2 separate regions of the Homo sapiens genome follow, and region 2 is linked to region 1. The links come from fine-mapping of genetic effects on gene expression. Tissue or cell type: esophagus muscle. Region 1 holds a variant in brackets; the other region holds the start of a gene. All regions are shown on one strand. Distances are from middle to middle.

Region 1 (4,887 bases):
GACTGGGAACCTAGTTTCTCCCATAATTAACATCTTATATTAGCTGTGTATATTTTATATTTGTCACAATTGATGAATCAATATTGATACTATTGGTTATTGATAATCAACATTGATCAATAACAATATTGATCAATATTGGTTATTAGTTACCAAAGTCCATGCTTTTTTAGATTTTCAAAGTTTTTCCTAATGTCCTCTTTTTTTTTCTTTTCTCTCTTTTTTTTTTTAAGAGACAGGGTCTCACTCTGTCATCCAGGCTGGGGTGCAGTGGTGCCATCATACCTCACTGCAGCCTCCGCCTCCCAGGCTCAAGCAGTCCTCCCACCTCAGCCTCCAGAGTAGCTGGGACTACAGGCACCACCACGTCCAGCTAATCTTTGTAATTTTTGTAGAGACAGAGTTACGCCATGTTGCCCAGGCTGGCCTAATGTCCTTTTCCTTCTGCCCCACAACCCCATCCAGGATCCCAGATGACATTTAGTTATCACATCTCCTGACACTCCTCTGGACTGTGGCAGTCTCCCTGTCTTTCTTGTTTTGATGCCCTTGATAGTTTTGTTTGTTTGTTTGTTTTGAGATGGAGTCTCACTCTGTCACCCAGGCTGGAGAGCAGTGGCACGATCTCGGCTCACTGCAACCTCCGCCTCCCGGGTTCAAGCGATTCTCCTGCCTCAGCCTCCTGATAGCTGGGATTACAGGTGTCCTCCACCATGCCTGCCTAATTTTTGTATTTTTAGTAGAGATGGCGTTTCACCATGTTGTCCAGGCTGGTCTCGAATTCCTGAGCTCAAGTGATCCTCCTGCCTCAGCCTCCCAAAGTGCTGGGATTACAGGCGTGAGCTGCTGCGCCTGGCCCATCCTGTATTTTTTGGAATGACATCACTATACACAGCCTACACAGAGTTATCCTTCATCTTTTTTTTTTTTTTTTTTTTTTTTGAGACAGAGTCTTGCTCTGTGGCCCAGGCTGGAGTGCAGTGGCACGATCTCGGCTCACTGCAAGCTCCGCCTCCTGGGTTCATGCCATTCTCCTGCCTCAGCCTCCTGAGTAGCTGGGACTACAGGCACCTGCCACCACGCCCCGCTATTTTTTTTGTACTTTTAGTAGAGACGGGGTTTCACCATGTTAGCCAGGATGGTCTCGATCTCCTGACCTCGTGATCCGCACGCCTCGGCCTCCCAAAGTGCTGGGATTACAGGCGTGAGCCACCGCACCCGGCCTATCCTTCATCTTCTTGAGGGCAGAACTGTACATAAACTATTTCCAATTCTTCTGCACAAGAAATGTGTCTCTTCTCTCCTGTTTATTTGTTCAGTGACTTATTTATATCCGTATGGACTCATAGACATTTATTTTACATCTTGGGTTATAATTCAATATTTCATTATTTATTTGGTTGCACAAACTGTTCCAGCATTGACATAGAGATCTCTTCTGGTTGACTCAGGTTTTTGTGGGGGTTTTATCTATTTATTTATTTTTAATACTTTTTGCTGCATTTGAGAGTCAACAACTCATCAGAGACCAAATCCCACAGGGTCGCCCTAGAGAGAATTCAACTTACTAACTTATTTCAAAGTTTTTGAAGTCATGTGATGCTGGGGAAAAACCTTCATTCTCCTCAAGCCGTGCAAAAATCTCCAAAAGGCTTAATATAAATTTGATTATCTAAAAGAAGCCCTTCAGCCCTGATGCGTTATAATTTTCTTCCTCTGCTAAAGAAAAAACATGCTGGGCGGGCGCGGTGGCTCATGCCTGTAATCCCAGCACTTTGAGAGGCCGAGGTGGGCAGATCACAAGGTCAGGAGTTCCAGACCAGCCTGGCCAATATGGTGAAACCCCGTCTCTACTAAAAATACAAAAATTAGCCGGGCATGGTAGCGGGCACCTGTAGTCCCAGTTTACTTAGGAGGCTGAGGCAGAAGAATGGCCTGAACCCGGGAGGCGGAGGTTGCCGTGAGCCGAGATCATGCCACTCTACTCCATCCAGCCTGGGCGACAGAGCGAGACTCTGTCTCAAAAGAAAAAAATAAAAGAAAAAGAAAAAACATGCGCTTGTGGTGGCTCACGCCCGTAATCCCAACACTTTGGGAGGCTGAGGTGGGAAGATGGCTTGAGCCCAGGAGTTCAAGAGCAACCTGGGCAACATAGTGAGACCCCATCTCTACAAAAAACCAAAAAACTACAAAAATTAGCCAGCCGTGGTGGTGTGCACCTGTAGTCCCAGCTACTCAGGAGGCTGAGGCAGGAGGATCTCTTGAGCCCAGGAGGTTGAGGCTGCAGTGAGCCATGATCACGCTACTGCACTCCAGCCTGGGCGATACAGTGAGGCTCTGTCTCCAAAAAAATGTATATATTTAGGTCCAGTGATTCTCCAGAACTAAATGTGTTTTGCTTTTGTTCTTGTCTGACTCGCCTGGCTGGACCTGTCTGGGCCACTCCACTGTCCTCTGCCTGAATCTCTGGTGCCCGGCGACTGATGCCTGTTCCTGGATGGGTCCGCAGGCCACTCCCAGAAGAGACGGGGGTGGAACTGCTTGGCAGCCCGGTGGAAGACACATCCTGTAAGTTTCCACGTCCACAGAAGGGCGGAAACAGGCTCAGTGTTTCCGGGTTTCAGCCCTGCCTGGGGCTGTAACTGTAGAAATGTCAGAGGCCACACACCGTGGGTAGAATGTTCTGTCCTGGGGTCTATGGTGGAAGTGGCCGTGGTGGGTGAGAGACACAATGGATGATGGCGCTCTCATGAAGCCAGCACGCTGTGTTGCTGTGTGTCCCTGTGCTAGTCACTCAGCCTCTCTGTGCCCCAATGCCTCATCTACTAAATGTAGGTAGCGAGCTTCTCGCAGAGGGGGCATGTAAGGATTAAATGAGGTGATGCCAAATGCCCTGGAGGCACAAAGTCAGCACAGCCAAGGGTGCACTGGGAGGCTCTGCTATCTGGAGCTCTAAACATATACATTTTAATGTGTAATACCTTATATTAGACCCAAATATATACATTTTTTGGGAGACCGGGTCACA[C/T]TCTGTCATCCAGGCTGGAGTGCAGTGGCGTGATCATGGCTCACTGCAGCCTCAACCTCCAGGGCTCAAGAGATCCTCCTGCCTCAGCCTTCTGAGTAGCTGGGACTACAGGTGCACACCACCATGGCTGGCTAATTTTGGTAGTTTTTGTAGAAATGGGATCTAGCTATGTTGCCCAGGCTGCTCTTGAACTCCTGGGCTCAAGCCATCTTCTTGCCTCAGCCTCCCAAAGTGCTGGGATTACGGGCGTGAGCCACCACGCCTGGCATGTTTTTTCTTCAGCAGAGGAAAAAAATCATAATGTATCAGGCTCTGAAGCCCCAGATCCCGGGGATGGGAGTCCTGGGCGGCCAGAGGAGAGTTTTAGCCGTAACCTGGCGATTGCAACGTGCCTCCGGAGGCAGGGAAAGGGCCCAGGTTGGCACCGTGGGGAGAGGTGGGGTCTGGGGAGGACCTGGCAGCCAGCCCCACTTAACGACATTCAGTTAAGCAGAATATGGAAAATAAACCTGTGAGGGCCAAACAAAATTTTTTTGGAGACAGAGCCTCACTGTATCGCCCAGGCTGGAGTGCAGTAGCGTGATCATGGCTCACTGCAGCCTCAACCTCCTGGGCTCAAGAGATCCTCCTGCCTCAGCCTCCTGAGTAGCTGGGACTACAGGTACACACCACCATGGCTGGTTAATTTTTGTAGTTTTTTGTAGAGATGGGGTCTCACTATGTTGCCCAGGCTGCTCTTGAACTCCTGGGCTCAAGCCATCTTCCCACCTTGGCCTCCCAAAGTGTTGGGATTACGGGCGTGAGCCACTGCACCCGGCCGCCTGTCTCTATTTAAAAAGAAAAAAAAAAAAGGCAGGTCACCGTGGCTCACGCCTGTAATCCCAGCACTTTGGGAGGCCGAGGCGGGCAGATCACGAGGTCAGGAGTTTGAGACCAACCTGGCCAACATGGTGAAGCCCCGTCTCTACTAAAGATACAAAAAAAAAAAAAAAAAAAAATTAGCCGGGCATTGTGGCACTTGCCTGTAATCCCAGTCACTCAGGAGGCTGAGGCATGAGGATCGCTTGAACCCAGGAGACGGAGGTTGCAGCAAGCTGAGATTGTGCCATTGCACTCCAGCCTGGGTGACAAGGCGAGACTCTGTCTAAACAAAACAAAACAAAAAAAGATTAGTCGGGCTTGGTGGCGCATGCCTGTAATCCCAGCTACTTGGGAGGCTGAGGTGGGAGAATCACTTGAACCTGGGAGGCGGAGGTTGCAGTGAGCTGAGATCCTACCATTGTACTCCAGCCTGGGTAACGGAGTGAGACTCCATCTCAAAAAAATAAATACATAAATAAAACAAAATAAATTAGCAGACTTTGGATTAAAGCAGGCAGCCATCTGTGATGTGGGTGGGCCTCATCTAATCAGTTGAAGGTTTTAAGAGAAACAGACTGAGGTTCCCCCAGGCAGAGACAATTCTGCCTGCGGACGGTTTTGCAACATCAACTCTTCCCTAGGCGTCCCGCCTGCTGGCCTGCCCTGCCGATTGAGGACTTGTCAGTCTCTGTGATCACACGAGCTAATTCCTTAAAATAAATTTCTCCCTCTCTCTTTTTTTCCATACATATAGGAAAAAAATATGTATACACACACACACACACACACACACGTCCTATTGGATTTGTTTCCCTGGAGCACTCTGATTAAAATAGGAGACTATCCTGGATCCTGTATTATCCAGGTGGCCTGACATCGTTACAGGATCCTCATGAGTGGAGACAGGAGGGTGAGAGTCAGAGAAAGCCTAGAAGAAGATGGGCTGCTTTCACAATTTGTCTGCACAAGAGATATGTCTCTTCTCCTTTATTTATTTA
Region 2 (4,887 bases), 120 kb before region 1:
CGGAAGGGGTGGGTCAGACTGGGCTGTGGAGGGGGGGTCACTTGCTGTCCCCTACCCCAGGCCCCTGTCCTGCCCACTCACGGCATGAGGCTGAGCTTGGGGTCTGCGGAGAGGGCCTCCCGCTCCCGCAGCGCCCCAGCTGCCAGCAGCCCCTCCTGTCCACTGGTGTGGTGCTTGACGCGGTACCAGCTCTTGTTCTGCCAGGGAGGAAGCACGGGGTTAGTGTGGGGGGTGTGGGGGTGGTCCTGGTGGAGCCCCCAGCCCCAAGCACCCACACCCGCCGGCCACCTCTCACCTCGCAGGCCTCCAGGATGGTGACCACGTCGCCCTTGCGGAAGGCCAGCTCCCCTGGCTTGGGGCGGGTGTGCTCGCATTTGGTGATACACTGGGTGCCCGGGGCCCAGCGCCTCTGCAGAGGGGGCCGGGAGAGGGGCAAAGGGAGGACATCACGGAGATGTGGGGAGCAGAGGCACGGGAGGGGAAAGAGGACAGGAGGGAGAAAGGTATAGAGATTGGAAAAGAGCGGAGAGGCAGAGAAAACAGACGCAGACATCGGGGGAAAGAAAGGGGGAGTGGGGTGCTCAGAGAGAAATCGTAGAGTCACAAAGAGAGGCGGCCTGGGACAGAAGGTCAGGAAGCCAAGATGACTGAGAAAGGCCAGGCCGAGGCCAGCAGAAGGGGGTAGGGGGCAGAGAGTACAGCCCTTCAGGAAGGGGTCTCAGGGTGTGGACGGAGTTGAAGAAGGACCCGGGGAGCAGAGGAAGCAGGCTAGACACACTCACCGTTGGCATCCTGGCTGAGACGGGAGGGGGGTGCCAGGCTCGGAGGAAGCGGGGGCTCACCTGGGGAGGGGACAGAGTCCAGGTGGGAGCTGGGCTGGGACCCACGGTCCAGTTCCTACCACTTCCAGCCCAGGTCAGGTGGGGGCGATGGCTGGGCAGGCAGAGAGAGCCTCCCCAGAGGCATCCTGGATGGGACCCAGAACTGGCTCCCCAAGCCCCTGTGGGGAAGTGATCTTTACCCGGGGAAGTTCCTCAGCAGAATCACAGCCGTGAAATGCCCGCCAGGAAACCAGAGAGCCTCGCCCCGCCATCGCCCCCAGAGGGAAACTGAGGCAGGTGAGAGGCACACTGAGCAAGTGGTCACAGTCGGGGACGCTGGGAATGGCCTGCCACAGGCCAGTCGGCTGGCACAGGAGGTAGGGAGCTGGGTGCCACTGGACCGAGCCTGGTTCTTCCTGTTTTCTGGTTGGTAGGCAGGGGCAGGGTGGGGAAATAGGGATGAGTCAAGGTCATTCCCAAGAATCTCTGACCGTGGGGTGGAGCTGGGGGCAGGGGCGGGTCCTGTAGCCCTGCTGGGCTCCTCCGGCCACCCGCTGAGCCTCTCTGATCCCCCCCCAAACCCAGGACAGACACACAAAGTCACTCATTGCTGCAGGGGTGGGGGAGCCTCCCTGCCTCCCCCATCTCCCCGACCGCTAGTGGCTGGGAAGTGGGCGGTGCTGGGGGGTGAGTCTCGGCCCCTCCAAGATGCGCCTCCCATGAAATCCTCCAGTCCCACGTGTACTCACACGCATACGGATGCATGCACACGCACAGAAACACACAGGGCTCGGACACAGCTGCGCGCAGACAAGCAAAGGACCACGTCCACGTGGAAACAGGTGTGCGCACACGTCCCCGCGCATCCGCGCGCACAAGCGCTCCACACCTGGGAACGTGCGCACCTGTCCCCCGCCCCCGGCACACACACAGCCGCCCCACACTGGAACACCTGGGCGCCAGCGCCGGGCCACTCGGGCACGCAGGGCGCTACGCAGGGCCGCGCACACGCTTTTCGGCCACACGCGCACAGCCCTCCACGTGGACGCGCGGGTACACACGCCCGGGGCTCGTAGCCGCGCACACCCGCACCCAGGAAACCCCAGCCACCACCACGCGGGGTCCGATCGCCTCTGAGCACCCTCCGCCCCAGCCGCGCACCCGCTGCGCGCCCGGGACGCGCACACTCGCGCACACACCGGCCCTTCCTGCGCACGTCCCGGGCCCACCCCCGCCTAGAGCCCTCGGGGTTTCCCCCCACCCCGGCCTCGGGGTCTCTCCACGTCTCCCCGCCGACGTGCTCACCTGCTCAGGGGGCGCCCCCGAGCCGCGCCCCGCGCCCGCCCCCAGGAGGGCCTCCGCGAGCCGGCTGCACACCCCGAGGCGGTCCCGGCTGCACAACTTGGAGCGAGTTGCTCCGTTTCCTCATTTTGGGGGCGAAGAAGGGTCGGGGAGTGGGGGAAAGCGGGAGGCGCCGCGGCCTGGGAGGCCCCCGCGGGTCCTAGCGCCGGCCGCACTGCGGTCTCCTCCGCGCGCCGCCGCCGCCGCCGGCCCCTCCCCGCCCCGCCTCCGCGGCCCCCGGCGCCTCCCGCGCGCCCCGGGCGGGGTCCCGGGGCGCACGCGGGCTCCACGCCTGGCCCTGACCTGGCCCTGTCGGGCGTGCACCCCCCACCCACCCTGGGAAGCGGGGTTCTTGGAGCGTGGAACGGGCGCCGCCAGTGCGCGCGGCGGGGACCGGGGGTGAGGGAGAGTGAGCTGCCCGTCCGGGGAGATAAGCAAGGCGCCAAGCCCGGACTCCCAGAGGACACTTCGTACTCTGCAATTCCAACTCCCTCAGTGTCGCCCATTTGAGCACCCACCGTCTCAGAGGGCTATTGGTGGTTGACAAAAAAAAAGCTTTCAAAATGTCAGCCGCTATCAATATCATTATCATAATCATCAACATTAAGGGAAAATTGGAGTAACAGAATCATCGGGAACTGTAATCATCCGGATGCAAACTTCTTAGAGCTGCCCTCCTTGGAGGGTAAAAGGGGGGCCTGGGAGTTGGAGGGACCTGGCTCTGCCCGTAGGTAGGAGGTACCCCTTTTCCAGCCGGGATTTCCTCCCCCATATGGAGGGTGGGGGCCCCACCCGCTTTCACCTCACAGAACAGTTTGATCTCACTTGGTCTTGGTGGACAGGGCCCTGGCCCCCAGCGATGGCTTTGTGGTTGGGGTGACCAAAACGCCCAATCTGCTTTCACCCAATGCAGGCCTTTATCTTTATTTTTATTCATTTATTTTTTGAGACAGGGTCTCACTCTATCCCCTGGGCTGGAGTGCAGTGGCGTGATCATAGCTCACTACAGCCTTGACCACCTGGGCTCAAGCCAGCCTCCCGCCTCAGCCTCCCGTGTAGCTGGGACCACAGGGTAATTTTTTTTTTCCCAAATTTTCATAGAGCCATAGAAGGGGTAGCCTCAGGAGGGGGTGAGTTCCCTGTCCTGGGAGGAATCCAAGAATTGGCCACTTTGCCTTTTTTTTTTTTTGAGATGGAGTCTTGCTCTGTTACCCGGGCTGGAGTGCAGTGGCGCTATCTTGGCTCACTGCAACCTCCACCTCCCGGGTTCAAGCAATTCTCCTTCCTCACCCTCCTGAGTAGCTGGGATTACAGGTGCGTGCCACCACGCCCTGCTAACTTTTGTATTTTTATTTTTATTTTTTTGAGATGAAGTCTCACTTTGTTGCCCAGGCTGGTCTTGGACTCCTGGGATCAAGCGATCCTCCCATTTCGGCCTCCCAAAGTGCTGGGATTACAGGCGTGAGCCACCACGCCTTGCACCTTATCATCCTTTCTAAGGGATGAGTCCTCTGAAACAAAGATGAAGTTCATCTTAGGAGGGCAATGAACCGAGATGCCCAGGTGGCCTGCGCCCATATTTAATCTTCTGTTACCCCAAAAGGCTGTGTGTCTGGACTTGGGGGCATCACATGATTTTGCGGGGAGCAGAGGCCCAGTTACAAGAGAATTACAGAACAGCTATATTAAGGAACATTATGCAGCAGACTAGGAAACTATATTATTATTATTATCATTATTAGAGCTGGGGGTCTCTCTGTGTTGCCCAGGCTGGCCTCAAATGCCTGGGCTCAAGCGAACCTCCTGCCTCAGCCTCCTGAGTAGCTGGGACTACACGTGCACACCATGGTGCCTGGTTAAACCATACTATTATATATATTATATTATTAATATTTATATTATATTATATTATATTATATTATATTATATTATATTATATTATATACCTGGGGCATCCAGGATGCTCTCTCATCTCAATAGCATCAACTTAATCCCATCTGTAGGCTGGGCCCAGTGGCTCACGCCTGTAATCCCAGCACTTTGGGAGGCCAAGGCGGGCAGATCACCTGAGGTCAGGAGTTCTAGACCAGCCTAGCCAACGTGGTGATACCCCGTCTCTACTAAAACTACAAAAATTAGCTGGGCGTGGTGGCACATGCCTGTAATCCCAGCACTTTGGGAGGCCGAGGCGGGTGGATCACGAGGTCAGGAGTTCGAGACCAGCCTGGCCAAGATGGTGAAACCCTGTCTACTAAAAATACAAAAATTAGTCTGGTGTGGTGGTGGATGCCTGTAATCCCAGCTACTCGGGAGGCCAAGGTAGAGAATTGCTTGAACCTGGGAGGCGGAGGTTGCAGAGAGCCAAGATCGCGCCACTGCACCCCAGCCTGGGCAACAGAGTGAGACTCTGTCTCCAAAAAAAAAAAAAAAAAAAAAAATAGAGATGGGATCTGGCTATGTTGCCCAGGCTGGTCTCAAATTTCTGCACTCAAACGATCCTCCAACCTTGGCCTCCCAAAGTGCTGGGATTCCAGATATGAGCCACTGCACTATCTCAGCTCACTGCAACCTCTGCCTCCTGGATTCAAGCAATTCTCCTGTTTCAGCCTCCTGAGTAGCTGGGATTACAGGCACATGCCACCACACCCAGCTAATTTTTGTACTTTTAGTAGAAACAGGGTTTCACCATATTGGTCAGCTGGTTTCAAACTCCTGACCTCAGGTG

The links. PIP is the estimated chance that this variant, and not a neighbour inherited with it, causes the effect.
Region 2: MATK starts here. The variant in region 1 is the best candidate, but not a certain one, in a credible set for the expression of MATK in esophagus muscle (GTEx, PIP 0.68).

Annotation. Positions count from the first base shown.
Region 1 is chr19:3,899,978-3,904,864 of GRCh38, forward strand. It overlaps ATCAY (ATCAY kinesin light chain interacting caytaxin), which reads left to right. Exons shown (of 13, transcript NM_033064.5): 3 at 2,510-2,568. Among named protein-coding and RNA genes, the nearest start is that of ATCAY, 22 kb to the left of the region's middle. The variant C/T (reference allele first, on the strand shown) is at 3,029.
Region 2 is chr19:3,784,043-3,788,929 of GRCh38, forward strand. MATK (megakaryocyte-associated tyrosine kinase) reads right to left here and starts at 2,339. Exons shown (of 14, transcript NM_139355.3): 1 at 2,127-2,339; 2 at 1,022-1,244; 3 at 783-842; 4 at 296-409; 5 at 82-197. The coding sequence starts at 1,093. RefSeq lists enhancers at 772-1,767, 1,129-1,423 and silencers at 1,129-1,423, 3,298-3,496.